Linked DNA regions of Homo sapiens. The protein of the gene in region 1 interacts with the protein of each later gene in a biochemical or structural test. Each region holds a gene or a part of one and is shown in the gene's direction. Other genes may lie near its edges. The genes, in order: TNKS, GMDS, HNRNPM, LNPEP, PLCH2, RUNDC1 and AXIN1.

Evidence for each region.
Region 2: the proteins of TNKS (region 1) and GMDS form a complex in vitro, tested with the Homo sapiens proteins (one study listed by BioGRID).
Region 3: the proteins of TNKS (region 1) and HNRNPM interact in a test that uses a peptide from one of them, tested with the Homo sapiens proteins (one large-scale study listed by BioGRID and IntAct).
Region 4: the proteins of TNKS (region 1) and LNPEP form a complex in vitro, tested with the Homo sapiens proteins (one study listed by BioGRID).
Region 5: the proteins of TNKS (region 1) and PLCH2 interact in a test that uses a peptide from one of them, tested with the Homo sapiens proteins (one large-scale study listed by BioGRID and IntAct).
Region 6: the proteins of TNKS (region 1) and RUNDC1 interact in a test that uses a peptide from one of them, tested with the Homo sapiens proteins (one large-scale study listed by BioGRID and IntAct).
Region 7: the proteins of TNKS (region 1) and AXIN1 form a complex in vitro, tested with the Homo sapiens proteins (2 studies listed by BioGRID).

The regions. Positions count from the first base shown.
Region 1 is NC_000008.11:9,562,033-9,566,181, forward strand, and holds part of TNKS (poly [ADP-ribose] polymerase tankyrase-1), read left to right. Parts: intron 1-4,149.
Region 2 is NC_000006.12:2,235,195-2,239,343, reverse strand, and holds part of GMDS (GDP-mannose 4,6 dehydratase), read left to right. Parts: intron 1-4,149. UniProt on the Homo sapiens protein: Catalyzes the conversion of GDP-D-mannose to GDP-4-dehydro-6-deoxy-D-mannose.
Region 3 is NC_000019.10:8,465,315-8,469,463, forward strand, and holds part of HNRNPM (heterogeneous nuclear ribonucleoprotein M), read left to right. Parts: intron 1-9; coding exon 10-201; intron 202-920; coding exon 921-1,074; exon of another isoform or gene 1,075-1,300; intron 1,301-2,187; exon of another isoform or gene 2,188-2,220; coding exon 2,221-2,270; intron 2,271-3,459; coding exon 3,460-3,520; intron 3,521-4,149. UniProt on the Homo sapiens protein: Pre-mRNA binding protein in vivo, binds avidly to poly(G) and poly(U) RNA homopolymers in vitro. Involved in splicing.
Region 4 is NC_000005.10:97,023,027-97,027,175, forward strand, and holds part of LNPEP (leucyl-cystinyl aminopeptidase), read left to right. Parts: intron 1-1,494; coding exon 1,495-1,656; intron 1,657-3,590; coding exon 3,591-3,731; intron 3,732-4,149. UniProt on the Homo sapiens protein: Release of an N-terminal amino acid, cleaves before cysteine, leucine as well as other amino acids. Degrades peptide hormones such as oxytocin, vasopressin and angiotensin III, and plays a role in maintaining homeostasis during pregnancy.
Region 5 is NC_000001.11:2,474,449-2,479,358, forward strand, and holds the start of PLCH2 (1-phosphatidylinositol 4,5-bisphosphate phosphodiesterase eta-2), read left to right. Parts: upstream 1-1,840; 5' UTR 1,841-2,140; coding exon 2,141-2,264; exon of another isoform or gene 2,265-3,072; coding exon of another isoform or gene 3,073-3,256; intron 3,257-4,027; coding exon 4,028-4,174; intron 4,175-4,910. UniProt on the Homo sapiens protein: The production of the second messenger molecules diacylglycerol (DAG) and inositol 1,4,5-trisphosphate (IP3) is mediated by activated phosphatidylinositol-specific phospholipase C enzymes. This phospholipase activity is very sensitive to calcium.
Region 6 is NC_000017.11:42,986,665-42,990,813, forward strand, and holds part of RUNDC1 (RUN domain-containing protein 1), read left to right. Parts: intron 1-591; coding exon 592-750; intron 751-2,676; coding exon 2,677-2,875; intron 2,876-3,652; coding exon 3,653-3,772; intron 3,773-4,149. UniProt on the Homo sapiens protein: May play a role as p53/TP53 inhibitor and thus may have oncogenic activity.
Region 7 is NC_000016.10:297,003-301,151, reverse strand, and holds part of AXIN1 (axin-1), read left to right. Parts: intron 1-1,947; coding exon of another isoform or gene 1,948-1,968; exon of another isoform or gene 1,969-2,141; intron 2,142-2,853; coding exon of another isoform or gene 2,854-2,877; exon of another isoform or gene 2,878-2,892; intron 2,893-2,900; coding exon 2,901-3,430; intron 3,431-3,925; coding exon 3,926-4,096; intron 4,097-4,149. UniProt on the Homo sapiens protein: Component of the beta-catenin destruction complex required for regulating CTNNB1 levels through phosphorylation and ubiquitination, and modulating Wnt-signaling.

The DNA.
Region 1 (4,149 bases):
TCACGAACTCCTGACCTCAGGTGTTCCATCCACCTCAGTCTCCCAAAGTGCTGGGATTACAGGAGTGACCCACCACGCCTGGCCTTATATATCTTTTATGAAGTTTTGTCCTTTTTTTTTCTACTGGGCACACTTCAGTTTTATTCAGTTTTGTTGGGTTATCTTTTATTATTAAGTTTAAGAGTACTTTATATATTCTGCATACTAGTGCTTTGTGGGATAAATGTGCTAATATTTTCTCCCAGGCTATGAATTACTGATTAATTTTCTTAATGAGAGTCATTTGAATAGAAATTTTAAATTTAATTTATATATTTATTTTATGGTTATTGCTTTCTCTGACTCATCACCTGGATAAGAACTTTTATCTGGCCCCAAGTCATAGAAGTTCTCATACATATCCTATGAAAATCTTTATGATTTTAGCTACATTTTATCAGATGTGACTATATCCACTTCAGTATTCTTATGCTGTGTGTGGCATTTTTCTATTCATTCACTTTCAATCAATCTGCCTTTATATTTAAAGTGTGTCTATTATAGACAGTATATATGTGAGTGTTGCTTTTTAAGACATTCTGACAATCTGTGTCTTTTAATCTACCTCATTAACTAATATTGATACTTCCAATTCAAACTCAGAACTATAGGGTTTTTACTTACCTCTTCTATGTTGCATCTGGCCATCATTTCTTCCATACCTAAACTTTTATTTTTCAAGGACCTGCTAAGAGCTGTTAATGTTGAAGGTCTGATGAGAATGGGAATTTCCTTCCCTTAGCCTTTTTTTTTTCTTTCTAGATGGGCAAAGGATTTTTTTTTTCTCTTCCATTAAAGACCAGATATTCTATTACAGTATGTCTTGGTGTTCGTTTCTCTAGATAGATTTTCTCAGGTATGTGGTATGGCTTTTCTTTACATAGTTTCAGATCTTTTATTTCAGAAAAGTTTCTCAAATTATACTTTTTATTATTCGTTCTTTTCTTTTTATGTATATTGAAACTTTGCCTCTTCTAAATTTGTTACTTGCTCCATTTCTTTAATACGATATATGTAAAATTTACCATTTTAACCATTTTAAGTGTACAGTTTTGTGGCATTAAGTTCATTCGCCATGTTATGCAGCCATCACCATTGTCCATTTCCAGAACATTTTTTGTCATCTTAAATAAGCTCTTGTACCCATTAAACTATGTCTATCTGCCCCCAAACCCCTGATAACTGTCACTTTCTTTTGAATCCTATTAAAAAATATATATCTTCTTTTTTTATTAACTTTTTTTCTCCTTTCATCTTCTATTTTTCTTAAGGCAGGAGTTGGAAACTTTCTGTAAATGGCCAGATAGTAAATATTTTAGGCTTTGTAGCCATATGGTCCCTCTCATAGCTACTCAGTTTTGCTTTTATACTGTGAAAGTTTCCATAGACTATATGTAAATGAATGAGTGTGATTGTGTTCCAGTAAAATTTTATTTATGAGAATAGGTGATGGGCCAGATTTGGTGTATGGGTTGTAGTTTGCTGACCTCTGTTATAAGGCATTATATGTGGCATTTTTTCCATTTTGTGTTCTTTCTTTTGTAGTCCTTTCTTGAAATTATTTTTTCTTTTATTTTGAATTATTTTCTGAACTCTCTCCTTTTATTTCTAACTCAGGCACATGCTATACGTTCATATCTTGTATCATTCTCGTATTCTCTTTTAGCTAGTGTTAAAATAATTGATTATAATTTTGTCTGCTTTGTGGGCATTTTTTTCTGTTAGGTATTAATTGTCTGCGGGGATGTTATTCTCCAAATTCTTCTTGTAAGAATTTTGTATGTATTTGACCTCAGTTACTTTCGTTGCTCATTTTTACAGAAATTAATTACTAAATAATTTCAAGGATAAAAATAAAGGTCTGAGATAGTTAAGGTAATCCCCCCTGTCCCTTTTTGTTGTGCTACACCTGCAGCTCTGGCCTAGAATAGATCAAGTCTCTCAGTAAGGTCTGCAGGATCATCTTTTACAGTAGTAGCATTTAAATTATGAAACATCATCATTTTATACCTCTGTTTATATAACCTATGAGACATTTTTTCAGGAACCTTAACCGGAGACATTGTGCTAAGGGCATTTTATAGATAAAGTCTCTTCCTGATAGATTACTATTTAGTCTTTTTGGTAAGTGTAGTCCAGTCACCTGTAAAGCATTCCCTACCCCATCAATGAATTGAATAGGTCACAGGCCAGGTGTTCTTTCCTGACGGGAAGTGATTCTTTGACAGTTAACAGGCCAGAGAAATACATTGGGAGGATAGGAGGCATATCATCAAAGGTCGAGTTGTGAGCATAAATATGTTAAAAAAAAAAATCTCAAGCTTAGAATCCAGAAGAAAAGTAATCAAGGAATGTGAATAATTCTGAGAAAATAAATTTTATTGTAATGTTAGGTTTGGTTTTGGAAAGGAATAAACATGAGCTCTGTGATGACATGAGGGAGAAAACACTATAGTAGTTTAGTCTTTAATATTTTTAACAGCCTCCTTTTGTGTCATAGACAAAGAATCTTTGGGTAGCTTACTATAAAATATTGCAGTAGATAAAATTGAAGGCAGTTGCTTCTTACCTTTTTATTTTTCCCCATGTCATTGTCCTTGAAGCTACTTTGGCTTATGTTTATTCTTCTGATAGCTAAGTTTTGGTGTAGCCCTGCTCTTGAGGCACCTAATACCATGCATCATTAATAGATACTTATAGTAAGAATTGAATAGGATTAGTTAAGATAAGATGGGTTGGAGTCTGAGGGCTAGGTGCAGCCTCCCCTTACGGGGCTTAATAAAACCAATGAAACATACACGAGAAAGAAACATTCAGAAATGGACTTTCAGTTTCTTGGTGAATAAAAAGCATTATATCTTCAAGAAAAAATGAGTAGGGTGGGTTTCCTAGGGATTTCTACTAAAGCCTAGGAGCTCAGGATAACCCCGGGGCTCATTAAAAAAAAAAAATCACTTTGATTTCAAGTAATTGAGGAAAGTTTTAGGTGTTTTGTTTTTGTGTGCCCGTTGTTTTTCTTTTAAGGCTTCATCAGATGTCTAAGTTTGCTTTCACCAGAGCGAGTTACTGAGTTCTCTTCTCGAATCTTGTTTTGCCAGTTTGTTCAGGTATCTGTTTATAGAATTAAAGCAGCGTGAGGGTAAACTTTTTTTTAAGCTGTTTTTTGGAGTGTGTCAGCTCCCCATTCAATTTAGACAAGTTATTTATTTATTTATTTATTTTGGTTTTGGAAGAGGGAAAATAACGTGATGTAAAATTTTTTCTCTATCCCTTTTGCCTTTTCAGTAGAACAAACTAAACTGCTGGTAGGTGGCAGATGTTTGGACTTGTTTATTTTTTCTTCTTTGGTATATTTTCTTTTAAAGTGAGGAAGCATTTGGTAGTTAGCAGATGATTTCCATGAACTACAAGTCCAAACTGAACAAAATTTGTTTTAAATTTACTGATTGACTCAAAAAACCTTAAAGCTATAGTCTCTGTGTCATTAGTTCAAAAATAAACTAAACCAGCCAGGCGTGGTGGCTCACGCCTGTAATCCCAGCACTTTGGGAGGGCGGATCACAAGGTCAGGAGATGGAGGCCATCCTGGCTAGCACAGTGAAACCCCGTCTCTACTAAAAATACACACACACAAAATTAGCCTGGCGTGGTGGCGGGCGCCTGTTGTCCCAGCTACTCGGGAGGCTGAGGCAGGAGAATGGCGTGAACCCCGGAGGCAGAGCTTGCAGTGAGCCGAGATCACGCCACTGCACTCCAGCCTGGGTGACAGAGCAAGACTCCGTCTCAAAAAAAATAAAAATAAATAAAAATAAAAATAAACTAAACTCCCTGATGCCTTGTTAAAGTGTGTGTATACACACTTTTTTGTGTCTACATGTATATAACTTATTATATATGTCAAATTATATGTTGACATATATATTATATACATAGTAAGTAGACATTGAAAAGTTCTGATGCCCTCATTCTGATAATACTCATCAACCGTAGAAACCATTTTGACATTCTCATCAGTCATGTTAATAAGATGTGCAGGTCTCCTCTTCCAAATGCTTGGGTTATTCTCATGTTGACTGTGGAAATTTGGTATTTTCAAAAGAAATGACATAG
Region 2 (4,149 bases), on another chromosome or scaffold:
TTTTTTTTTTTTTTGAGACAGATCTTACTCTGTTGCCTAGGCTGGAGTGCAATGGTGGTATGATCTCACTCACTGCAACATCCGTGTCCTGGGTTCAAGTGATTCTTGTGCCTCAGCCTCCTGAGTAGCTGGGATTACAGGCGTGCGCTACCACGCCCAACTAATTTTTGTATTTTTAGTAGAGTTGGGGTTTTGCCATGTTGGCCAGGCTGGTCTTGAACTCTTGGCCTCAAGTCATCCGCCCACCTTGGCCTCCCAAAGTGCTGGGATTATAGGCGTGAGCCACCGTGCCCGGCCAGGATAGTTTTTTTTTTAAATGAAACCAATGAACTATTAATTTTACTGAATTTGAAATTAAGTTTGTAAACTAAGAAGAAATTCATATGAGTTGTATGTTGTCAGAATTTGTAAGGATAGAGTGAAAACTTGGAGCTGTCCATCTTTGTAGGACATATCAAATGAATGAAGTGACTTTTTGGTGAGGAACGATTTTTTTTTTAACTGGTACATAATAATTGTACATATTTATGGGGTATGTGTGATATTTTGGTACATGTTTGTAAAGTTCAAATCAGGGAAATTAGGATAGAGGAAGGAGTTTTAAATTCTTGGGTTTTTCTTGGGTAGAAAAATGGAGTTAATTATGCCCACATCACAAATTGATGTGTGGATTACAAATGATGATTATATTATAATAAGGCCTATCACTGTTCCTGGCATGTAGTGTTTATGAAGTGATAGTTCTTATTTATTATGAATAAGTTCTCACAGTGGGAAGGAATGAGAGAAGGATGGAGAAGTGCTTGGGAATGCAGTTAGGGGTATGTAGGATGAATGAGAATAGTAAAAGTATGAGGATAATGAGATCAAGGATGCAAATGCATTTTGGTGACAGGTTGGATGGTAATAGTATGGCCAGAAATGCAACCACTGGGAAGGAAAATCAGTTTTCTGGGGGAAGACAGTGAATTATTTTGTTCCTCTGGAGTTTGAAGTGCAGTGGTGCAATCATAGCTCGCTGCAGCTTTGAACTCCTGGGCTCAGGTGATCCTCCTGCTTCAGCCTCCCTGGTAGCTGCCACCAAGCCTGACTGATTTTTTTACTATTTTTTTTTTTTTTTTGTAGAGACAGGATCTCACCAGCTGACCAGGCTAGTCTTGAACTCCTGGCCTCAAGCAATCCTCTGGTCTTGGCCTCCCAAGTGCTGATAATACAGGTGTGAGCCACTGCACCTGGCCTCTTTGTCTTAAAAATGACTTAAAAGTGCTCAGAGGTGGCTGCTGTAGAGTGGGCAAGTCCTAAAGGTGGCCATGCTGCTGTGCTGTACCTTTAGCCAGTCTTCTTCCCTGTCTCCCAGAACTTTCTGTAGCTCTTACTTAGAAGGCATGAAAATTAACACTTTCCCTTTAGTTTCATGATTGATGTTAACCAGGCTATTCTTAGTATATTTCAGTTTTCTCCTTTCTTTCTCCTTTATTTATTTGTTGATTATTTGCATTTCCTAATGTTAAAGATACTTCCAGGCGGGGCGAGGTGGCTCATGCCTGTAATCCCAACACTTTGGGAGGCCAAGGTGGGTAGATCACCTGAGGCCAGGAGTTCAAGACTACCCTGGCCAACGTGGAGAAACCCCATCTCTACTAAAAATACAAAAATTAGCCTGGCATGGTGGTGGGCGCCTGGAATCTCAAGTACTCGGGAGGCTGAGGCAGGAGAATCGCTTGAACCCGGGAGGCAGAGCTTGCAGTGAGCCGAGATCATACCACTGTACTCCAGCCTGGGTGACAGAGCGAGACTTTGTCTCAAAAAAAAAAAAAAAAAAAAAGGTACTTCCAAACTTCCAATTTACAATTTCTCATGCTTTTCTTCCTTTCTTGAGGAATTTTGGGAATCTCACACTTCCAGAAGTAAGGTGCTCAGTTGCATTAACCATTCCTGTATAAGCTTAATACATAGGAAATGAGTGAGTAAAACATGTCTGAAAGGTAATCCTATAGGATAGAAAGCTGATTATCAGTAATGTTCTTGGCAGTGGGGCACCAATGTGCCAAACCTAGTCTTTGGCAAGCTAGTAAGCAATTTTCCTGCCAAAATCTTGTGACTTACCATAAGTAGTAACCCAATTGTTTATATAAATTTACTCATTGAAATGACTCAGCTTTCCAGGATATTATTTTGGCATTTACTTATGTAGAATTGAGTTACATAGACTTGAGGTTAGATGATTTTATATGCAGTGACGTTCTTGGCTGAAGGGTATTTACTTCATTTGTTTCAGACTGTTCATACTGTGCCTTTTAAACAATTTACCACATGTGATTCTAGGGGAATCCTTTCTCAGATCTTCATACTAAGTTCTTTTAAACTTAAGAGTGAAAAAATAAAGGTATTTACTAGGGATTTATAGAAAGTATTTCTTTATACTGACTAATTACACTTGGGAAAATGAACCACCAAAGCTTGGTTGTATTATATATATATTATGCTTGAGCATTTGGTTTGATTGTAATGTGAAATGAATTGCTTGATCATGTTTAACAAAAATATGTTCCTTAATGCTGAGTGAAAAAGCCTCTAATTGGCACTTTTAGAAATCTTTTAAAATCAAAACATGATTTTTCTATGTTTCTTAGAATGGTACTGTATTTCTATCACTTTTCACAAAAGTTAGATTTTTAGTATTGCTTTATTCGAACTATATTTTTACATCGGTTCTTTAAAAATGATGAATTGGAATTTTGCAAGTATATGCAGACACTAGTAGTATTTTTTGGTGATCAATATTGATAAACGTGTTTATTGTAGTTTACAGTGGAATCCTTCAAAATGGAAGCTTTGTTGCAAGAGACCTGCAGGACAAAATGCAAGTGTGGCATATATGCTTGTTGGAGTAAACCCAGTCAAGGAGAAAGACAGCAGAAACCCTGTTTGTCAAGAATTGTGGGAGGCCTGAGATTTTACCTTACTTGCAGGCTAACAAGTTAGCTTCTTAAAATTCCACGGATGATGGCAGAAGACACAGCACTCCTGGGTCAGCAGGCAGTATGAACTTCATGTTTGTGACAGCTCTGTTTGTATAGTATTTTCTTGCCCCTCAAAGACCATGTGGGTAACACGGTGGCTGGGTGGGTCTAGGTGGATGTTGCCCATGCAGTGGGTATGCACCACAGTTGAGAAAATCTGAGATTGGGAAACCCCAATTTTTTATAAGGGAACTAATAATCCTGCCCAGCCTTTGCTTTGAGGGAGACATTATTTTTATTATTCTGCATAGCAAACAAATCTTCCATCTGCTCCAGAGAGAAACACTATTGCTATCTTAAAATGCTATCTACAGATGTCCTGTACAGGAAAGATAGTAGCCAATAAAAGCTGTCAGTGCAATCTGCTCATAAGACATGCAGAAACTGGAGAGACCCATAGAGAACTGGCTCCCAACACCATTTGTTTGCCTTGTTCCTGAAACTTACCAGATTGGCAACACAGACCAGTTTTCCTCTTTTTTTTTTTTTCTTATTTTTTTTATTTTTTTTTATTTTCCAGAAAGGGTCTTGCTCAGGCTGGAGTGCAGCAGTGCAAACACAGATCACTGGAGCCTCAACCTCCTGGGCTCAAGCGATCCTTTGGCCTCAGCCTCCCGAGAAGCTGGGATCACAGATGTGCACCACTATGCCTGGCTAATTTTTGTATTTTTTTTTTTTGTTAAGATGGGGTCTTGCCGTGCTGCTCAGGCTGGTTTCAAACTCCTTGGCTCAAGCAATTCTACCATCTCAACCTCTCCAAGTGCTGGTATTGCAGGTGTCAGCCACTGTGCCTGGCCCCAGTTTTCCTCTTATGTCTCCATGCAGACTATGGGGAGCTCCAGCTTTGCATTTGTTTTCTTTTTGCTTGAAGAACAAAATGATAAGACCTGGATTTGGGTGCTTAGTATGGAATGAATTAGGCATTGTCCCTGGGGGAGGCATTTTATATTTCCCTGTATGTATAGGCATGGGAAGTATAGTAGGTTTGATTTTGTTGGAATGTTTAGTAAGTTTAATCTGATAGATTAGTCTCAGTTGGCCTGAAGAAGTCTAGCTCAGAAGGACATTTTTCCAGCCCTGAAGAAGAATATGCCTGCTTCCCCATCACCCCTAAGGGGATGATTCT
Region 3 (4,149 bases), on another chromosome or scaffold:
TTGTTTTAGGATCCTGATGGTGAACATGCCAGGAGAGCAATGCAAAAGGTGATGGCTACGACTGGTGGGATGGGTATGGGACCAGGTGGCCCAGGAATGATTACTATCCCACCCAGTATCCTAAATAATCCCAACATCCCAAATGAGATTATCCATGCATTACAGGCTGGAAGACTTGGAAGCACAGTATTTGTAGCAAATGTAAGTAAACAGAACCATCGTCTAAAGTAGAAAATCAGAACTTTATGAAATGACCTTGTCAATATGTTATAAAAGTAATTCTCACATTTGAGAAGAAAAATGTAAAGAAGGGTTTTGTTCTTGATTTCTTTAAAAATCAGCCTTATAGGCGGGCTTTGTCTGCATTCCTAAGTCACAGGCTTGACCGTGGTCTCGTTGGGGCTGTGATTCCTGAGTTTCGCAGGTGTTTCCGCAAGCAGTAACCGAGTCTGCATTCTCCGTTGGTTTATTTTATGCAGTTTTGGTGCAGAGTAAGACTGTACGAGCAGAAGTGCACTGACACCTTCCTCTTGTTGTGTCTGGGGTGAATGATAATACCTCCACCATCTGCAAGGGGAAATATTTTTAGAATAAAGTAGGTTGGGTGGGGTGGGGAGTGGTAAAGCTTATCAGGGAAACAATTTTTTAAAAATGTTCAGAAAATGAGTATTAATTTGAAGTATGAGGTGACTTAAGTTTCTGAGAAAAGAGACAATATATTTACTATAGGTACAGTTTATTTACAGTGAAGGCCAGGCTTTATAATCCTATTTTAAAATTTCCATTGCAGTTGATTAGTTTTTGTGACATTATTTCCTAATACTTTTTTCCAACCAAAGCATGTATCATTCATGTAGTAAAAATGTTGTGTTTCTTAAGATGTTTACATTGAGGTTTTTACCCCGTTCTCTCTCGATTAGCTGGATTATAAAGTTGGCTGGAAGAAACTGAAGGAAGTATTTAGTATGGCTGGTGTGGTGGTCCGAGCAGACATTCTTGAAGATAAAGATGGAAAAAGTCGTGGAATAGGCACTGTTACTTTTGAACAGTCCATTGAAGCTGTGCAAGCTATATGTATCCTTCTGCAGGAATTCAACTTATGAACAGTTTGACCTAAATTGCTGTGTTAGTAATGTAGGTTTGTGTGAGGAAGAGGTGACTGTGTGTATTCATGTTTTTTATGTGACTAGGGGGAGTGCATTACTGTGGAATTAAGAGGTTCTCTGGGCCGGACCGGTCACGGTGGCTCACGCCTGTAATCCCAGCACTTCGGGAGGCCAAGGCGGGCGGATCACTTGAGGTCAGTTCGAGACCAGCCTGGCCAACATGGTGAAACCCCGGCTCTACTAAAAAATGCAAAAATTAGCTGGGCGCAGTGGTGGGTGCCTGTAATCCCAGCTACTCGGGAGGCTGAGGCACAAGAATCGCTTGAACCCGGGAGGTGGAGGTTGCAGTGAGCCGAGATTGCGCCACTGCACACCACCAGCCTGGGTGATAGAGTGAGACTCAGTCTCAAAAAAAAAAAAAAAAAAAAAAAAGGTTCTCTGGGGGTGGAATTGATTCAATACAGTGTGGATAGAGGGGATGGTTACAACATGGGCATATGCCCATGAGTCTTTCTACTGTTTTCTTTTCAGAAGAGTCTAGGTTTGAAGGAGGAAGTCCAAAGAATGTGCTACTAGAGAGAAAGTGGGGTTGTTGTTTCATGTGTAATACATCCTTATAGGACCTCACTCTTTCCAGTGAGTAGACATCATTTTGGAAGAGGCCACTTCTCCTTGACCCTAGGCTTAGCCTAGAGTTTTTAATCCCTTGGAGAGTACCCCACAGGAGCACATTCATACAACTCAGACAAGACCGTCACTGCATGTCTTACCCAGAAAACATGGTCCTTCAGTTTAGATAGTGGTAGATGCCTGGCCCATTGGTCACATTCAGAGAACCTTGATGCCACTGCTTAAGAGGATGGTTTGGTGAAATTGTAAGGTTACGAATGAAGCTTCACACCTAAGGAATAAGCGGAAGTTGTCTTGTCCTCCCCGCCAGCTTTATTTATTGTTCCTTTTATGTTTATTGTTGAAAGTATAATGAAGAATTGAAATTGCTCATAAATTCATCACTTAGAGGGACTGGTAGCAGTTGGAGTATTTTTCTTTCTTTTTGTATTTCTCTTGTGCACATTTTTAGAATTGCAAGAAATAGCCTTAATTGTAATACCAGCTATGTTCAATGGCCAGCTGCTATTTGATAGACCAATGCACGTCAAGATGGTAAGTCAGTAGGATCTTTCTCTGTGATATACTCAAGTCTAGCAAAAACATGGAATTAATAAGAGTGTACATATAGCCACTATGAAATATTTGTGGATTAGTCTAAGTTAAATAGGGTGCAGTATGTTGAGCAAAATTGTGAGAGAAATAACATTTTGCTGGTCAGGCGTGGTGGTTCACGCCTGTAATCCCAGCACTTTGGGAGTCTGAGGCAGGCGGATCATGAGGTCAGCAGTTCGACACCAGCCTGACCAACGTGGTGGAACTCCTCCGTCTCTACTAAAAATACAAAAATTAGCCGGGCGTGGTGGCACGCGCCTGTAGTCCAGCTACTCGGGAGGCTGAGGCAGGAGAATCACTTGAACGTGGGAGGCAGAGGCTGCAGTGAGCCGAGATCGTGCCACTGCACTCCAGCCTGGGCAACAGAGTGAGACTCTGTCTCAAGAAAAAAAAAGAAGAAAAAAAAACATTTTGCTCATGGCAGCTCTTGACTGCATTAGATATTTTTCCTTTTGCACAGTTGACTGTTCATGGCGCATTCAGGAAGTCACCTGGGTATCCTGGTTGAGCAAGTGATCCGTTTCAAAGAATGGTTATATATGTGGGGTTCCAGTTTTTCAAAGTATTACAGTATAATGTTTGGTTAGCATCAAATCTGTTGTGAACATAATTAAGTCATTGATTCAGACAGCTTTTAAAGGTCTGTTGGAGCACTTCAATCTTAATAAACATTTGCTCTGCCGTAACTGTGCCAAAGATAATAATTACTACAGGCATGACTGGAACATGCTGAGGGCAGTCTAGTTGGGACTCAAATTCAGGAAAAAGATAAACTATAAAGCAATTTTTTCATTACTCTAAATAGAGTAGGTAAGTTTTTTGAATAGATGATAGATTCACGTGACTCAAAAGTCAAAAGGCATGAAAAGGTAGTGTGAAGATAGTGTGAGTCCTACTTGGACTTCTTGCCCAGGTCCCCATCATCCCCCACAATAATATCCATGTGTCTTTTCCCTTGACATAAAATAGGAAGCATGCTCCGCATGCCTTTCTACCCTTGCGTATTACTCCATGGCGTGGATAATGTGTTTAGCTGGTCCTCTCTTGATGGGGGGCCATTTCAGTCTTTTGCTGTTGCAAACACTGCTGCACTGGATACTGAGATTTGTTTGTTTTCTTTCTCTTTCAGGATGAGAGGGCCTTACCAAAAGGAGATTTCTTCCCTCCTGAGCGTCCACAACAACTTCCCCGTAAGTGTTTCAGTGATTAGGGCTGAGAGTTTGAATTGGAGTTACACTAATAAACAGAAAATTACCATATGGTTTCACTTGAACCTGTGCCAGGTTAGCCCTCAGTTCTCTTGGCCAGTTCTTTTCTATAGATTTTTCAGGGTGAGAAATGAGCAGAGATTCACAACTTGAGGATATTGTTAGGATTACCTCATGGTAATCCTAGGATTGTAATACCAGGATGTAGAGGATGTGGTTAGGCATTTTGAAAGTGTCCTGGGGAAGGAAGAATCAGAACCTGTGAAGGGAATGAAAACCAGGCTGCACTCTAATTCAGAAGATACTGGTTAGTCCCATGTGGGCTAGCAGTGCACACTAGACATCTGCACAGAAATTCGCACGCAGATGTTTGCAGCAGGATGAAAGACACATGCTGCAGTGTGGATGAACCTCGATTTCATCTACAGGAAATGCTCCGCATAGATAAATGCATAAAGGCAGAAAGTAGATTAGTGGTTGCCTGAGGCCGGGAAGGAGTAAGTAGGGACGGGACTGCTAATAAGGTTGGATTTCTTTTTTGGGTGATGAAAATGTTCTGGAATTAAATGGTAGTGATAGTTGCATATCTCTGAATATACTAAAAACCACCG
Region 4 (4,149 bases), on another chromosome or scaffold:
TTGCAAAACTGAAACTCTGTACCCATTGAATAATTCCTCACTCCCTCTCCCCACCAGCCCCTGGTAACCACTATTCTACTTCCTGTTTTTGTGAGGTTGACTACACTGTATATCTCATATAAGTAAAGTCATATAGAATTTGCTTTTTTGTGACTGGCTCATTTCATTTACCATAACGTCTTCAAGGTTCTTCCATGTTGTAGCATGCATTAAAATTTCTTTCTTTCTTTCTTTTCTTTTTTTTGGAGATGGAGTCTTGCTCTGTCACCCAGGCTGGAGTGCAGTGGCGCGATCTCAGCTCATTGCAACCTCCACTTCTCGGGTTCCATTGATTCTCCTGCCCCAGTATCCGGAGTAGCTGGGATTACAGGCATCCGCCACCACACCTGGCTAATTTTTGTATATTTAGTAGAGACGGGGTTTCACCATGTTAGCCAGGCTGGTCTTGAACTCCTGACCTCAGAAAATCTGCCCACCTAGGCCTCCCAAAGTGCTGGGATTATAGGCATGAGCCACCATACCTGGCTAAAATTTCTTTCTTTTTAAAGGCTGAATAATTTTCCATTGTATGTATATACCACATTTTGTTTATCCATTCATTCCTGGATAGACCTTTGTGCTGCTTGTACCTTTTAGCTATTGTGAATAATAATGCCATGAACATTGGTGTGCAAATATCTCCTAGAGACCCTGCTTTCAATTCTTTTGGAAATACACCTGGAAGTAGTATTGCTGGATCATATGGTAATTCTAATTTTAATTTTTTGAGGAACTGCCATATTGTTTTCTACAGCAGCTGCACCATCATTCCAATTTCTCTACATCCTTGCCAACACTTGCCATTTTCTGGGTTTTTGATAGCAGCCATCCTAATGGGTGTGAGGTGATAAACAAGTCTCTTAATTTAGAAATAAAACATAGCAGGTAGAGTTAGCAGTTAACAGAAAAGCTTTTGGGGGTAATTAGTTCTCTCCAGCTCCTTACCGTGCATTATGGAGAGAAGATTCAAGCATCAGATGAAGAGTTGGGGTGGAGGATTTGGATAACGTTTTGAGGTCTTTCCCAGCTCTGAGATCTTAATAAAGGCAGTAGACTGTGTTTTCTCCCTGCACCCCATTTACTGCTATAGTTCTACCATGAAACTTATCACACTGAATTGTAATGCATATAGTTATTGCTCTATACTTCGTAGTAGCCTGTGAGTTCTCAGAGGACAGAGGCTCTCATTCCTTTTCCGCTCCCTAGTGTCCAGCCAGTCGCCTGCCTGGTTCTTTGTGAGTACTCTGTGAATATTAAATTGAACTGATGTATCCATAGACACACTACTAGGAAGATAGCAGTCACTGAATTAAACTTTTTCTCAACCCTAAATTGTGTACTCAAACTTGTTATTATTACCAACCCTCACACCAGAAACTCCACCACAGCCAACTCTTCGCCTTTGTATTCAGAATATTTTCTTGTTATTCTCATGTTTGACCACCTCTCTTACAGCCTACCTACTGATGTCATGACAACTGTGTTCAAAGTTGGAGCAAAAACTGACAAAGGCTGGTCATTCCTTTTGGGCAAATACATTTCTATAGGCTCTGAAGCAGAGAAGAACAAAATACTAGAAGCACTTGCCAGCTCAGAGGATGTGCGGAAGCTTTACTGGTATGAAATCACCGAGGAATATGATATACAGAAACCAAAAGAATACAAACACTGTGCTCTTGGTCAGGAGCTCATTTTTGAGGGGATCTCTTTTCCCCACTTCTGTTACAGGCCAGGCCTAAGTTGGACAGTGTGGTGAGGAGACTACAGGTGCTGGGCTTTATCTTTATGGACAAGCAGAAAATCCTTTGCCCAAAAGGGATTACAAGATGTCAGGAGTCACAGCCCCCTCCTACTCCTTGCTCAAAAAGTCTTCCTCCCCTTGGAATGTTGTCTTATACACCACAATTGGTACTCCATAGTTTAGGACCAAGGCATTGCTTTGTGCAAGCTGTCATTTTAAAAATGTAGGCATTTCAGAAAAAAAAAATCACATATTAAACCTTCTAGGTTCTACGTTCATATGAATTTATTTGTCAGACTTTTCCTTTTTAATATGTAGTGATGAAGGCCCAGAAGTAGGAGTGTCATATGGATGAAGGTAGGGCAGTAAGTAGGGCCTCCTGACAGGAAGAACAGGCAGTGGTGGGGTAGAGGAGCTCTACATAGCCAAGAGGAATATAGAGGTATCTGCTGTAGAGAGCACAGGTGTTAGAAGTCGCACTGAGGATAGAAGGAGGCTTCTGGGTCTCATTACTTCTGTTGTATGATTTTGCTCAGATAAATCTTAATAGTGTCCCAGAGATGTCCTCAGTACCTGTCCAGACCCACTTACCAAAAGATACGCTGTAAATAGTCATTTTCTTTAAAGTATTAGCCAGCCTCTGACTTAAGCAAATAGAGAAAAATCACTGTTTTTAAACTATGCTAGTAATACACTAAGAATGCCCATGATAAAGAATTTAAACAGTACCTAAGAATATAGAGTAAAATATGAAAGTATTTCTCATGATCCTTCACTTCCATTCTCGTTTTCTCTGTTAACAACAGTGTCAGTCCTGGTCTTTGTATTCATCTGTGGGAATGGATATTTGTACATATGTACGTACATACATACACACATACCTACATATTTAACTGCATTTTAAAAACCATATTAGGTTTATACCATACCCAGTGTTTTGTGACCATCTTTTTAGTGAATGATCAGTCTATGAGATTTTCCATGTCACTTCATGAAGCCTGCTTTATATATAAAAAAAAACTAAAGTGTTTTATGGGTTCATAATATTCTGTAGTATGGCCCTATCATAATTTATTTAATCCATCACGTTTTGTTGGGCTTTTGTTTTTTTCTCTCCTAAAAATACTGCCACAGTCTTGGAGTGGGGCGTGGTTTCTCACTATAAACAGATAGTATAGCATAGTAGATGAGAACTGCTTTTGTTCAGATGTCGGGCTTTGGTATTTATTACTGTGTGACTGTGGGTCAATTAGATAACCTCAGTTTCTTCAACTATAAAATTGAGTTAGGTAGTATTAATAAATACCTACTTTATAGCATTGTTGTGTCAAGGACTTAGAACATTATTTAGTACATAGTGTCAGTAAATGTTTGCTACGAACATTAATAAGAGTATATTCTGAAATGTATCCTAATTTTCAAATAATTCAAATGACCTAGTTTTTTTTAAGAATAGTAATATAATTAACCTGCCCATTCAAATCAAATAAGGTTTTTACCAGAAAAAAATACCCACCTCCCGAATTGTAATAAATTCTACCAGAACTTATTTCCTAAATGTTTTTACTATTTAAAAACTATTTATTGTCATGTGACAATATAGGTAAATGCCTATTTTATTGGTGAGTTCTTTCTTCATTTAAAAAAAATGACATTTTCAATCTATAGATCAACCGTAGACTAATGCAACAGTTATTTCTCAATTTGCTACACAGCTTTAATTAGGAAACCATACTAATTTTAATTTAAGTTCAGTCATCACTTCTTCATGAATAATAATTTTGGAGGCTAAATCTGCTTTGCTCTTCAGGTTAATGAAAAGTAGCCTGAATGGAGATAACTTCCGAACACAGAAGCTGTCTTTTATCATTAGAACAGTGGGTCGACATTTTCCTGGACACTTACTGGCATGGGATTTTGTCAAAGAGAACTGGAATAAGCTTGTACAGAAGTAAGTTTCTCAGAGAATTATTAACTTTTAGTATTCTCAAGTTGTGCATTTGAAAAAAGCTCCCAGTGTTTTGGCTCACAGAAGTTAGGATTTGCTGTGAGAGGAAAAATACTTCCATGACAGTTTAACTGAAACATCCGGAAATTTTCACATTTGTTAACATAATTCCATAGCATGAATCATTTAACAGTAGCATTCCATCTAAGTTCTAATTAAGCCTAGCCTTGCTTGGCACCAGGTTACTTAGCTCAGCGTGGCTACAGACTATTTCATAGCAACCATTTAGCTATGCATATTGAAAAATACCTCTGTATGGCCGGGCGCGGTGGCTCACACCTTTAATCCCAGCACTTTGGGAGGCCGAGATGGGCGGATCACGAGGTCAGGAGATCGAGACCATCCTGGCTAACACGGTGAA
Region 5 (4,910 bases), on another chromosome or scaffold:
CTGAGGAGGTCAGGGGGCCTGGGGTGCAGGAGCCTGGGACCCACGTTGTGGGGCTGGGGCCAGGCACTCTATGTGTGGCTCCTCTCAGAACCCCTGCCCAGGCAGATGGCGGCCTCCAAGCCCTAACCCCAGCTGATGGGGGATCAGCTAGTGGCTGAGAGCTCAAGGGAGGGAGGGAGGGAGCAGAGGCCCAGCCTTGGGGAGCTTCAAGGAGGGATGGGTGAGAGACGGGAGCACCCCCAGCTGGGGCCAGGCCCAGGGTGAGGGAACAGCAGGTGTGTCCCAGGCCAGGAGGCCTCTGAGGTGCAGGAAGGAGAACTGGACCCCCTGGGTCAGAGTGGAAGCCCGCAGCAGCCCAGTATGAGGTGGGCAGGGGCCCTGGGCCAGGGCTATGGCCGTCTGGTCTGTCTCCAGGCCCTCAGGCCACCTCCTGGCCCCTGCGCTGCCCCTTACACGGTGGCCTTCCCCGAGGCCCTGTCTTCCTGAGGACGCCCGGGACTCCAGCCCCTCTCCTCTCCCTGCAGCTCATGGCTCCCTAATCTAATTCCACGGCAGAGCCCAGAAACGCCTGCTGACCTGCTTCCGCCGAGAGCAGCAGAGCCTGTGACGGGGCCCCTGGTGGGGGCCTGGGTTGGCTCTGTGCTGACTGCATCTGATCTGGCTGGGTGTGGCCCTGGTTGTCAGTGGTCAGCTGGAGACGCATGGCCATCTCCTCAGGGACTGCCACCTCCCACGCCTGACCTTGGCCCCGGGGCTCTGCCAGGATGCCCAGCCCTGGCACCTCCCTGTCCTGGGCTCTGCAGGCCAAACTCCTCCCCTGGTATGGGGGGAGGCGAGCAGCTGCCCGGAACCTTCCAGTCCTTGTTGCTGGAGCCAGTAGAGCCTGGGCAGTGGGTGGGAAGAAGGGCGGGGTTCTCCCCAGTGTGGTCACGAAGCATGGGCATGGCCAGGACACAGGTGGCTGGTGTTCAGCCGGGGTCTGCCCACCTCCCATTCCCACAGCTGCCCCTGGTGTCCCGGCCTGGACTTGGGGATGGGAGAGCCTGTGCTGTCCTGTAGTGCGGGGCCAGTACACAGGGTGGGCTGTGTGGTCCTGGTGGCAGTGGGACCTGGAGTCCTTTCCTCAGTGGGAGCTGAGACGGTGGGGTGGGTCCTCCTTGGGCGAGGCCCCTGTCCAGGTCAGATGGCTGTCATCCCTGCAGGGCAGAATGTGGGGACAAACGTGCCCTGGGCATGGGGCCACCTCCTCCGCCACAGCTCGGTGACCGTGGAGAAAGGTCAGGCTGGGGCTGCAGCTGCATGAGGGAGACATGGAGAGCCCAACCCAGGCTCAGGGACCCACATCCTGGGCCTGGGCTGGGAGTTGTCGCTGTAAGGGATCCGGCTCGGCTCCCCTCTCCAGCCACAGGGGCTGGGCGCTGCGGGGATGAGGTGAGCTTCTGCCCCTGCTCTGGGCCACCTGCCTCTGGACTTTGGGGATCCACTCAGAGGTCCTCATAAGTAGGGATGCGGGGTGAGGGCAGGGACCACTCCAGGCCCAGCCTCGGCATCTGTGGTGGGCGCACAGCGGGGAGGCCCACCCCACACAGGGTCCTCGGAGGACAGTACCCTGCAGGCCTTCCGGTTGCGTTCTCTGGGTCCCAGGAGGGCCCTCCCGTTGGTCCTGCTCTTGTCCCGCAGCCCTGACCTGGGTCTGGTGGCCTGGGGCCTTGGGAAACTCTGTTGCCTCCCCAGTGCCCTCCCATCCCCAGCTGGGAGTTCCCTCGGCCTAAATCCTCCACCAGCTGGGCTGGAGCTGGGATTAGCACAGGGATTGGGCCTGGGGCTGGGCGGGGCTGAGGTCCTTTGCTCCCCCAGCCTTGGGAGGCGGCTGCGTCAGGGATTCCTTGGTGGCCCTGGAGGGTGGATAGGCTGGCCTGGGGGCCATCAGGACAGCAGGTGACGGTCAGGCCAATGCCAGCCGGGCCTGGGCACAGCCCTGTGGGGGCTTCGGAGGGCCCTGAGGAGGAGGAGGAAGAGGCAGAGGAGAGAAGGCCCCACGGAGGTCCTGTCGCCAGCGCTGCCACTGCCTGACCTCCGCTGCCCGAAGGCCGGTGGGCCTCTGTGGCCTCCGTGAAGCAGGCCCGGCTGTCGTCAGGCCATGTCTGGTCCATGGCCCTCCCCCGACAGCCGGACCAAGGGAACGGTGGCCTGGCTGGCGGAGGTACTCCTCTGGGTTGGAGGGAGTGTGGTGCTGTCTTCAGAGTGGCAGCTCGGCCCCCTGGGTAAGAAGGGGCAGGCGAGTGGCCTGGGCTGAGTGCTGGCCCTGGCCAGGTGACTGGTGGGTGGGGGCTGTTCCTGGAGGTGGGGGAAGCCTGGGCCTCCATCCCATCCTGCACTCGCCTCCCCTGTCCCCCGGGTGCTCTAGGGATCATGTGGGTCCAGCAGCGTCGGCTGGCCCTGCCCCTCAGCCGCTCAGAGGCGTGCTCAGCACACCTCGGTCTCCCAGGCACCTGCAGGGCCTGGGGGCTGAACCCAAGGGGGCGAGGGGGGATCTCAGGTGGCTCCAATGCTCTCATTGAAGGGGTGCCTTGTGCTCTGGGGGTCAGTGGTGCTTGCAGCCCAGGCGGCTGGGCTGGCATCCTGGTGCCGGACATGAGGGCCTTTGCCGTTAGGAGACTCTGCAGAGGAGACTGGCTGGGTATGGCTGGGAGGGTGGAGTGTGTGTCTTGTGGTGGCCTGTGGAGGGCCCCGGTCCGGGCTGGCCTGCCAGCTCTCTGTTCCAGCGGCAGACAGGGTCCTGTCCAGGCTGCCCTGTTGCAGGCCTCTGCCCGCCCCCTGCCCCTGTGTCCTGCCTCACCCCTCTCCTAAATCCCTGCAGCCATACCTGCGTCTTCACCTCCCATGTGCCCCGGAGAGCCCAGCCCCCCATGCCATGGCTTCCATCCCTTCAATTCCCCTCTGCTCGTGATCACGTAGTAGCTTCCCCAAGAAGGCCCGGCCAGTACTGCCCTTGGTCCTCTACAACGCCCCCGCCAGGGTCCCTCAGCGTGCAGACCTGGGGTGGGGATTAACGTCTCTGTGCTTTAGCAGATGGTACCTCTGGGACCCGGGCTTTCTGTGAGCAGGTGTGCAGGAACCGAGGGGGTGAGACCAGTCTGTTCCTGGGCTGGGACAGCTGACTCTGGCCTGGACTCCCTGGACCCTGCAGCCCCCTCTCCTGGGACAAGCTACAGCAGGAGGCTGAATGGAGAGAGGAGGGGAGAGAAGGAGCGAGGCAGGCAGCCTGGGGGAGGGGAGGGGAGGGGTTGTGAAGCTCGGATCCGGCACCACAGCCTCCCAAGTCCATACTGCAGTGCAGGGCGTGCGACGCAGACATTCATGGCACCATTCGTGGCGCTTGTTGCACATGAGGGGTGGGGGCTTTCCTGGAGATGCCCCAGGCAGGGGCACAGGCACTCAGGAATTCGACCGCTCCCAGGAGCCACCTGTGGCCAGGGGCGGGGGCAGGGGCATGGGGTTGCTGCCTGCTAGGCCCACCCCGCCCCTGACAAGGGGCCTCCACTGCACTATGGCCCCAGACAGCCAGCCCAGCCACCTCATCTGTCTTGCCTCGTGCCCGGCCTTCCCATTGTTGAGTTCTGTGCTGGCTCCGTCTGAGTGGTAGCTCTCGGGGCCCCAGGCCCAGCGCCGGTTACCAGGGCTGCTAGGACTGGTCCAGGAGGTGGTGGGAGTGGCAGGTGGCCGAGCAGGGTGGGGAGCAGGGCCCTCAGTTCCCAGGACCATCTGGGGAGGAGTGGCAGGGCCCAGCTGAGCTGTGTGACCCAGGCAAGCCGGCACCTGGGGTGGAGGTGGCCCTGGGCTCTGGCCTTTGCCCTGTCACTGGCAGGGCGGTGTGGGCGGGGCCGGGCGAGGTGAGGAGTGGCCGTGCCTCCGCTGACGGCCGTGTTTCTCCCGTGAGGAGTGGCCGTGCCTCCGCTGACGGCCGTGTCTCTCCTGCGAGGAGTGGCTGTGCCTCCGCTGACAGCCGTGTCTCTCCCGTGTCCAGTGGAGCGGTGCATGGGTGCCATGCAAGAGGGGATGCAGATGGTGAAGCTGCGTGGCGGCTCCAAGGGCCTGGTCCGCTTCTACTACCTGGACGAGCACCGCTCCTGCATCCGCTGGAGGCCCTCACGCAAGAACGAGAAGGCCAAGAGTGAGTGGGAGCCCTGGGGTGGGGACAAATCAGAGTCCCTGGGGGGACACGACGGTAGGGACCCTCCCAGGGCAGCCACTGATGGCTGAGGAGCAGCGAGACCCTAGGCCTGGACACCTCTGGGCTCAGTGGCCTTGGGGATCTGCAGTGACCTCGGGCTGTGGGGTAGGAGGGATCCAGGCCCCCTGCCCGCCTGGCAGAGCTCCCTGGGACTCAGTGAGGACCGAGTAGCACTGTGCCCAGCCCTGTGCTGAGTGCTGGGCTGGAAGGAGGGGCACAGCATAGTCCATCTAGCTGGGGAGGTCACAGCTCCCCATAAACAGAAACGACCCCCACAGAGGTATGCTGATGGATGGGTATGGGTGCAAACAGTGGCTCAGGCAGCCACTGGGCATGGCTGCTGGAGGGAGCAGGGGCCACCCGAGATGGAGGCTCTGTGCAGGGGGTGGGTGGGGAGAGTTGAGGCACACAGGGAACGGGTAGGGTCCCACGGTTTGGGGAGAGACATGGCAGTCCTCAAGGGCTGGGATCAGGGCGCAGCCAGGGTTTCTGATGGCTTTGCTGATGGTCAGGACCCAGGCATGCCAGGCAAGGCCTCAGCCCAGCAGTTGCCAAGCGTGTAGCCACTTTGGGCCCGTGGAGAGAGTCGCGCTGCGGAGCCCCCAGGGGGACCTGAGGTCACAAGAGCCTCGATGCACCTGAGCGCGGAGCTGGGGGTCCCTGGAGCCGCTGTCCC
Region 6 (4,149 bases), on another chromosome or scaffold:
TTTTTTTTTTGTATTTTTAGTAGAGACGGGGTTTTACTGTGTTAGCCAGGATGGTCAATCTCCTGACCTCGTGATCCACCCGCCTCGGCCTCCCAAAGTGCTGGGATTACAGGCGTGAGCTACCGGGCCCGGCCAGCTGGTTATGAGTTTTAAAGCCTCTCTCCACACCCTTACCCCAGATTCTTTTGCAAAATTTGGCTGCACAGAGTAATCAGGAGTTGTGTTATGGTAACTGGCTGTGGAGAATGGCATGTCTTAATTCCTGGGAGGCTATCTTGGCTGAGATAGATTGTCTCTACCCTAACTAGACCTTTGGGGGAAAAAAGGCAGTCTTAACAAAAAGCCTCATTGTATTAATATCCTATTTCCAATGAGGGACAGATAGTTTCTTAAAGAAAACACCCATTTGACAAATTGCCTAGGATGAAATAATTATTCTTACTTTTGAATCTATCGTATGAATTGTGTATTTCATTTGGATTATTGGAAACATCTTATATTTTATTGGTCATTACTGGCTCGAGCAGATTCTTAATGTGCCCTGAGTTTCCCTTTGCCTGCATAATAGACCCAATTATTTTCTTGCCTTAGAGTGAGCAGGAAAAGCAAGAGCGTCTGGAAACCCAAAGGGAGAAGCAGAAAGAACTGATACTGCAGCTCAAGACCCAGCTAGATGACCTGGAAACGTTTGCCTATCAAGAGGGCAGTTATGACTCGCTGCCACAGTCCGTGGTGTTGGAAAGACAGCGGGTGAGCAGACCCCAGAGGAACCTCCACCACTGCCCGAGGTTAACTTGTCCCTTCCAGCATTCACAGGGCATCCTCTCTCAGCTCAGTTCTCCTTTGGCCTTACTGAGAATCCCTCTGCTGGCCCAAATCAAAGGGAAATTTTACTGCTATGAGGAACCTTTCTTTGCTCACACATGGAAAACACAGATTCCAAAGTTTTGTAATACGATAATTGAGCTATTTCTTTTTGGTGATTGTAATTAATAATAGAAATAAGAATATAACAATAATTTCTTCATTTGATCACTTAAAAAATTCTACTTGGGCCCATCATACAATGTAATCTAGCTTTTTTGTTTTGTTTTATTTTGTTTTTGAGGTGGAGTTTTGCTCTTGTTGCCCAGGCTGGAGTGCAATGGCACAATCTCAGCTCAACACAGCCTCTGCCTCCTGGGTTCAAGCAATTCTCCTGCCTCAGCCTCCCAAGTAACTGGGATTATAGGCAGGCGCCACCATGCTGGGCTAATTTTGTATTTTCAGGAGAGATGGGGTTTCTCCATGTTGGTCAGGCTGGTCTCGAACTCCCAACCTCAGGTGATCTGCCCACCTTGGCCTCCCAAAGTGCTGGGATTACAGGCGTGAGCCACCGCACCTGGCCGTAATCTAGCTTTTTCCTACTACTCACTACCTTTTGATAAACATGCCAGGAATCCAGACTGACTTTAATACTGTATTTATTTAGGTAAGACCTGGGTAGACAGGTAAATCTCTTGGTAGAGATACAGTTACAACCTCCCCTGCATGTTTCTCTACCCCTGTGCTGTGGCTGTTTTTCTGGCTGGGCTGGAGTTTACGATATCAGATTTTTTTTTTTTTTGAGACAAAGTCTCAGTTTGTCACCCAGGCTGGAGTGCAGTGGCATGATCTTGGCTCACTGCAACCTCCGCCTCCAGGGTTCAAGCAATTCTCCTGCCTCAGCCTCCCGAGTAGTTGAGATTACAGGCATCCACCACCATGGCCAGCTAATTTTTGTATTTTTAGTACAGATGGGATTTCACCATGTTGGCCAGGCTGGTCTTGAGCTCCTGACCTCAAATGATCCACCCGCCTTGGCCTCCCGAAGTGCTGGGGTTACAGATGTGAGCCACCGCACCCAGCCTATTATCAGAATTTTAAATTGTTCCTAATAATGTCACTAGGATATTTTGGCTATAATGCACCTTGATATTTTATAGAGATTTTTCTTTAGTTGCCTACAGTAGGGCAAGAAGGGATAAGAAGGATTAGAAATTAAGAAAAATCAGGCCAGTTGCAGTGGCTCGTGCCTGTAATCCCAATTCTTTGGGAGGCTGAGGTGGGAGGATCTCTTGAGGCCAGAAGTTTGAGGCCAGCCTGAGCAACATAACGAGACCCTGTCTCTACAAAAAATTTAAAAATTAACTAGGTGGTAGCGTGTGTCTATAGTCCCAGCTATGGGGGAGACCGAGGCAGAAGGATTGCTTGAGCACAGGAGTTTGAGGTTACAGTGAGCTACGCTCACATTACTGGACCCTAGCCTGGGTGACTGAGCAAGACCCTGTCTCTTAAAAATCAGTATATATTCTCCTTGAAGCCTTTAGAGCAACTAAATATAAGGCTTGTTGGATCATCAGCCACTTTGGATTTTTCATACTGTTGTTTTCCTGAGTGAAATCTGACTAGCCTGGTAGAAATTTACTGTGAGTGGGAGGATCCATTTTTATCAGAGAACTGAGGGTTCTTTTTACTTTAAAAGTAGAGAGTCTATGTCCTCACCTTGATCAATCAGCAGTTAAGTCATTTACTTTCACAAATTTAGAGGTCTGTTTTTTATTTCCATTTAAGGACAGAAGACATTTTTAGATTCTCCTTCCTAACCCTCTCCCTAAAAATTCCAAAGGGTGTGCTCATTGCTTGTGATCTTGGTAGGTGATCATAGATGAGTTAATAAAGAAACTGGACATGAATCTGAATGAGGACATCAGTTCCCTGTCCACTGAAGAGCTTCGTCAGCGTGTAGATGCAGCAGTGGCTCAGATCGTCAACCCAGCCCGAGTCAAAGAACAGTTGGTTGAGCAACTGAAAACTCAGATCCGAGACCTTGAGATGTTTATCAACTTCATCCAAGGTTAGAGGAGGGGATGGGATGAGAAGGGTGGACAGGTGTCATAATAATTATACTTATTCTAAGTACTAGTAAAAAGGTTCTAATTCTGGTTTTTTGTTCTTTTTTGGGCGGTGGGGACAGTGTCTCTCTCTGTTCCCCTGGCTGGAGTGCAGTGGCACAATCTTGGCTTACTGCAACCGCCGCCTCCCAGATGGAAGCAATTCTTCCGCCTCAGCCTCCTGAGTAGCTCGGATTACAGGCTCCCACCACCCCACCCAGCTAATTTTTGTATTTTTAGTAGAGATGGTGTTTCAGCATGTTGGCCAGGCTGGTCTCGTACTCCTGACCTCAAGTGATCCGCCTGCCTCAGCCTCCCAAAGTACCAGGACTACAGGCATGAGCCACCATGCCCAGCCAAAAGGTGCCAATTCTTGATGTACTATTTAAGAGGCTTGATGGCTTAGTAGGGGAGGCAGCATTGGCAGAGTAGAAAGTGCATGGGTTTCAAAATCAGATAGTTAAAATCTCCACTCTCATACTCATTGGTTTTATGTCCTTGAGCATGTTACTAACTCTTCAGTCTCTCTTGTCATCCATAAAATGATGATTCATGGTTCATTCACTTAGCAAATATTTATTGAGCCAACTACTGTATGCCAGTCCTCATTTTACACAATTAAATAGGACAAGAGTTTGTGAAATTCTTGTTTCTAATAGGCACCATTAAGTATTATTTTTCCTTTAAAGATCTGCCATAAAGGGCTAAATAAGTGTCTCTTCTATAATTTCTGATTCCAGATGAAGTGGGAAGCCCCTTGCAGACAGGTGGTGGACACTGTGAGTGCAAGGCCGGTGGGAAGACAGGAAATGGCTGCAGCAGAACAGGCAGCAGCAGAACGCCTCCAGGAAACAGCAAAAGTAAGTGCAGTTTCCAGAACAGGCAAATCTCTAGAGACAGAAAGTAGATGAGTGGTTGCCTAGGGCTTGGGTGTGTTGAGGAGAAGAGGGGAATGAGAAATGCTGATGGTATGGATTTGCTTTTGGGAAGGATGAAATATTCTAAAATTGATTGCAGTGACAGTTATACAATTCTGAATATACTAAAAACCACTGAATTAAACACCTTAAATGGGTGAATCATATGGTATGTGAATTATATCTCAATACAGCTATTATTAACCAGAAAAAGGAAGTCCAGCTACATCCTGGGTGGCTCTTGCCTTCATGTGAGACCCAGCATGTGGCTCAGACTGATCTCAGCCTGTGATTTGTTGAGTGTAGCTCTGTGCCATCAT
Region 7 (4,149 bases), on another chromosome or scaffold:
CTACAGGCGCCCACCATCACGCCCGGCTAATTTTTTTGTATTTTTAGTAGAGACGGGGTTTCACCATGTTAGCCAGGATGGTCTCGATCTCCCGACCTTGTGATCCACCCGCCTCGGCCTCCCAAAGTGCTGGGATTACAGGCGTGAACTCCAGATTTTTTAAATAACCTATTTTCATTGTGAAATTTGGGAAATTAAAGCACAAAGAAGAAAACAAAAACCATTAGCCGAGTGGTTAAGTTAATCTGTAACATTTCACAGCCCCATGATAGAATTCCTGCCGATGTGGAGCTCGGCCAAGGCAGTGAACGGCATCAAAACTCCAAACACTTTTAGTCCCTAGGAAGACCCTCGGTTAAGATTTCTCCCCAGAGTGCCCGGGCCCTTTAGTCCTACAAAACCAAGGAAAGGGAGGCAGCATAGCTGCATCCGCCAGGGGATGCCCACCACCCACCTGTCCCCCGGCTCTGCTCCAGCATCCGTCTGTCCTCTTTAGTGCCATATTTCACCCTCAGCCCCAGTGCAGGTGCCCGCAGCCAAGCCCACACCAGCTCTGGGGCACGCCTGTTCCAGTTGCATTTGGATACTTTTGCAGGTGTGAGAGTTGGGTGCTAAACGTTGGGAGGTTTGTTTATATTAAAATATAGAGGTAGGTGGGGCACAGTGGCTCACATCTGTAATCCCAACACTTTGAGAGGCCAAGACAGAAGGATCACTTGAGGCCAGGAATTTAAGAGCAGGTTGGACAACATAGTGAGATTCCCCATCTCTACAAAAAAAAAAGAAAAAGAAAAAATTAATGGGACATGGTGGCATGCACCTGTAGTCCCAGCTACTTGGCAGGCTGAAGCAGGAGGATCGCTTGACCCCTGGAGGTTGAGGCTGCCTTGAGCTGTGATGGCACCACTGCGATTAGGTGTGGTGGCTCACACCTGTAATCCTAGCACTTTGGGAGGCCAAGGTGGGTGGATCACCTGAGGTCAGGAGTTCGAGACCAGCCTGGCAAACAGGGTGAAACCCAGTCTCTACTAAAAATACAAAAAATTTAGCTGGGCATGGTGGTGGGTGCCTGTAATCCCAGCTACCCGGGAGGCTGAGGCAGGAGAATTACTTGAACCCGGGAGGCGGAGATTGCACTACAGCCTGGGACACAAGAGTGAAACTCCGTCTCAAAAAAAAATTAAATAAATAAAAATAGGCCGGGCACGGTGGCTCACACTTGTAATCCCAGCACTTTGGGAGGCCGAGGTGGGCAGATCACGAGGTCGGGAGATCGAGACCATCCTGGCTAACACGGTGAAACTCCATCTCTACTAAAAATATAAAAAATTAGCCGGGCGTGGTGGCGGGCACCTGTAGTCCCAGCTACTGGGCAGGCTGAGGCAGGAGAATGGTGTGAACCCGGGAGACGGAGGTTGCAGTGAGCCGAGATCGTGCCACTGCACTCCAGCCTGGGTGACAGAGCGAGACTCTGTCTCAAAAAAATGAAAATAAATAGGCCGGTTGTGGTGGCTCACTCCTGTAATCCCAGCACTTTGGGAGGCCGAGGGTGGTGGATTACCTGAGGTTAGGAGTTTGAGACCAGCCTGGCCAACATGGTGAAACCCCGTCTCTACTAAAAATACAAAAAAATTAGGCAGGCATGGTGGCACACTCCTATAATCCCAGCTACTCGGTAGGCTGAGGCAGGAGGATTGCTTGAGCCCGGGAGGTGGAGGTTGCAGTGAGCCAAGATCGTGCCACTGCACTCCAGCCTGGCTGACAGAGCGACTCTGACTCTAAATAAATAAATACATACATAGATACATGGTAACTTAGTTCCCTCTCTTTCTTTTGTATTGACACCAGATTTACTCAATACTGTTTTAGTTTGTCAGTCCAATAAGATGAGAAAATAAGTATGAGATGCAACTTGGAATTAAAGTGATCAAATGTTTGCTCTGACAGATAAGCTTCAGCACCTGTTAACTTGGAGAATCAAGTGAAACTCCACCGGCTTCATGTGGAAGCTCGTCAGGCAGCATCACAACATGTACATAACCCAAGAGCCGTTCTGTACAAGGTTCTCCTTAAAATATAATGGGAGGCCGGGCGCGGCGGCTCATGCCTGTCATCCCAACACTTTGGGAGGCCGAGGTGGGTGGATCATGAGGTCAGGAGTTCGAGACCAGCCTGGCCAACATAGTGAAATCCTGTCTCTACTAAAAATACAAAAATTAGCTGGGTGTGGTGGCGCACACCTGTAGTCTCAGCTACTTGGGAGGCTGAAGGAGGAGAATCACTTGAACCCAGGAGGCAGAGGTTGCAGGGAGCCGAGATGGCACCATTGCACTCCAGCCTGGGTAACAGAGCAAGACTCTGTCTCAAAAAATATATATATATACAGGCCAAGGCAGGCAGATTGCTTGAGCTCAGGCATTCGAGACCAGCCTGGCCAATATGGTGAGAATCGCATCTGTCCCCAAAGTACAAAAAAATTAGCTGGGCGTGGTGGCACACGGCTGTGGTCTCCGCTATTCTGGAGGCTGAGGTGGGAGGATCGCTTGAGCCTAGGAGGCGGAGGCTGCAGTGAGCTGAGATCACACCACTGTTCTCCAGCCTGGGCAACAGAGCAAGAACTTGTCTCAAAAAAAGAATAAAACTAAACTAAATCTGTGCAGAGCTCTGCCCACAGCCGATACATACGCTGCATTCCTTGAGGCCTTGCTGTCTCCGCTCCTTCTGTCTATGCCCCGTCCTGCCTCTCCATCCTCAGGGACAGGACCGGTGGCGAGGGGCCCCCGGCCACCCTGGGCTGGGACGGCATCTGCTGGGGCTGCTGGGTCAGGCCTGATGCTTTTTGTTTTCCCCAAGTGTGCAGCTGGTGCTGAGAGGTGATGGTGCTGCTTGTCCCCACACAGGAGGAGGAAGGTGAGGACGGCGATCCATCGTCAGGGCCCCCAGGGCCGTGTCACAAGCTGCCTCCCGCCCCCGCTTGGCACCACTTCCCGCCCCGCTGTGTGGACATGGGCTGTGCCGGGCTCCGGGATGCACACGAGGAGAACCCTGAGAGCATCCTGGACGAGCACGTACAGCGTGTGCTGAGGACACCTGGCCGCCAGTCGCCTGGGCCTGGCCATCGCTCCCCGGACAGTGGGCACGTGGCCAAGATGCCAGTGGCACTGGGGGGTGCCGCCTCGGGGCACGGGAAGCACGTACCCAAGTCAGGGGCGAAGCTGGACGCGGCCGGCCTGCACCACCACCGACACGTCCACCACCACGTCCACCACAGCACAGCCCGGCCCAAGGAGCAGGTGGAGGCCGAGGCCACCCGCAGGGCCCAGAGCAGCTTCGCCTGGGGCCTGGAACCACACAGCCATGGGGCAAGGTCCCGAGGCTACTCAGAGAGTGTTGGCGCTGCCCCCAACGCCAGTGATGGCCTCGCCCACAGGTGAGCGTGCGCCTGTCAGTGAGGAGGGGGCTTGGGGTGAGGCTGTGTCCCTGCAGAAGGCCAGAACCTCCTCATAAAACTCAGGAAACCCAGGACCGCCAGCAACAGGCAGGAGGCCCCTCTGCTGGAGGGAGTGGACTGGGCCCTGGGTCAGGGGAGTCCACGCCGTGACCTCAGGTGGGAGATGAAGGTTAGGGGACACAGCCCGACCCTGGCTCCCGCTCTGGCCCTCAGTCTTCAGGGGGTGAGCAGTGACTGCCTGTGTGTTTAGAGAGGAAACCAACCCCCAGACAGCACCAGGACAGCGGGCAGGGGACAGCGGGTGGGGGACAAGCTGGCGGGGGACAGCGGGTGGGGGACAAGCGGGCAGGGGACAGCGGGCGGCGGCTGCACCACGGGAGCCTTACAGATGCCAGGAGGGGGCCTCGCAGACGAGGAAGGGGCACAGCCTCGGCCACCGGAGGCCAGGGCGACTCGCAGCTCTTGCCCTTGCAGTGGGAAGGTGGGCGTGGCGTGCAAAAGAAATGCCAAGAAGGCTGAGTCGGGGAAGAGCGCCAGCACCGAGGTGCCAGGTGCCTCGGAGGATGCGGAGAAGAACCAGAAAATCATGCAGTGGATCATTGAGGGGGAAAAGGAGATCAGCAGGCACCGCAGGACCGGCCACGGGTGAGCACCCCGCACGCAGCCAGCCTCGTGGGGCCTGCTTTGCCACCCCTGGC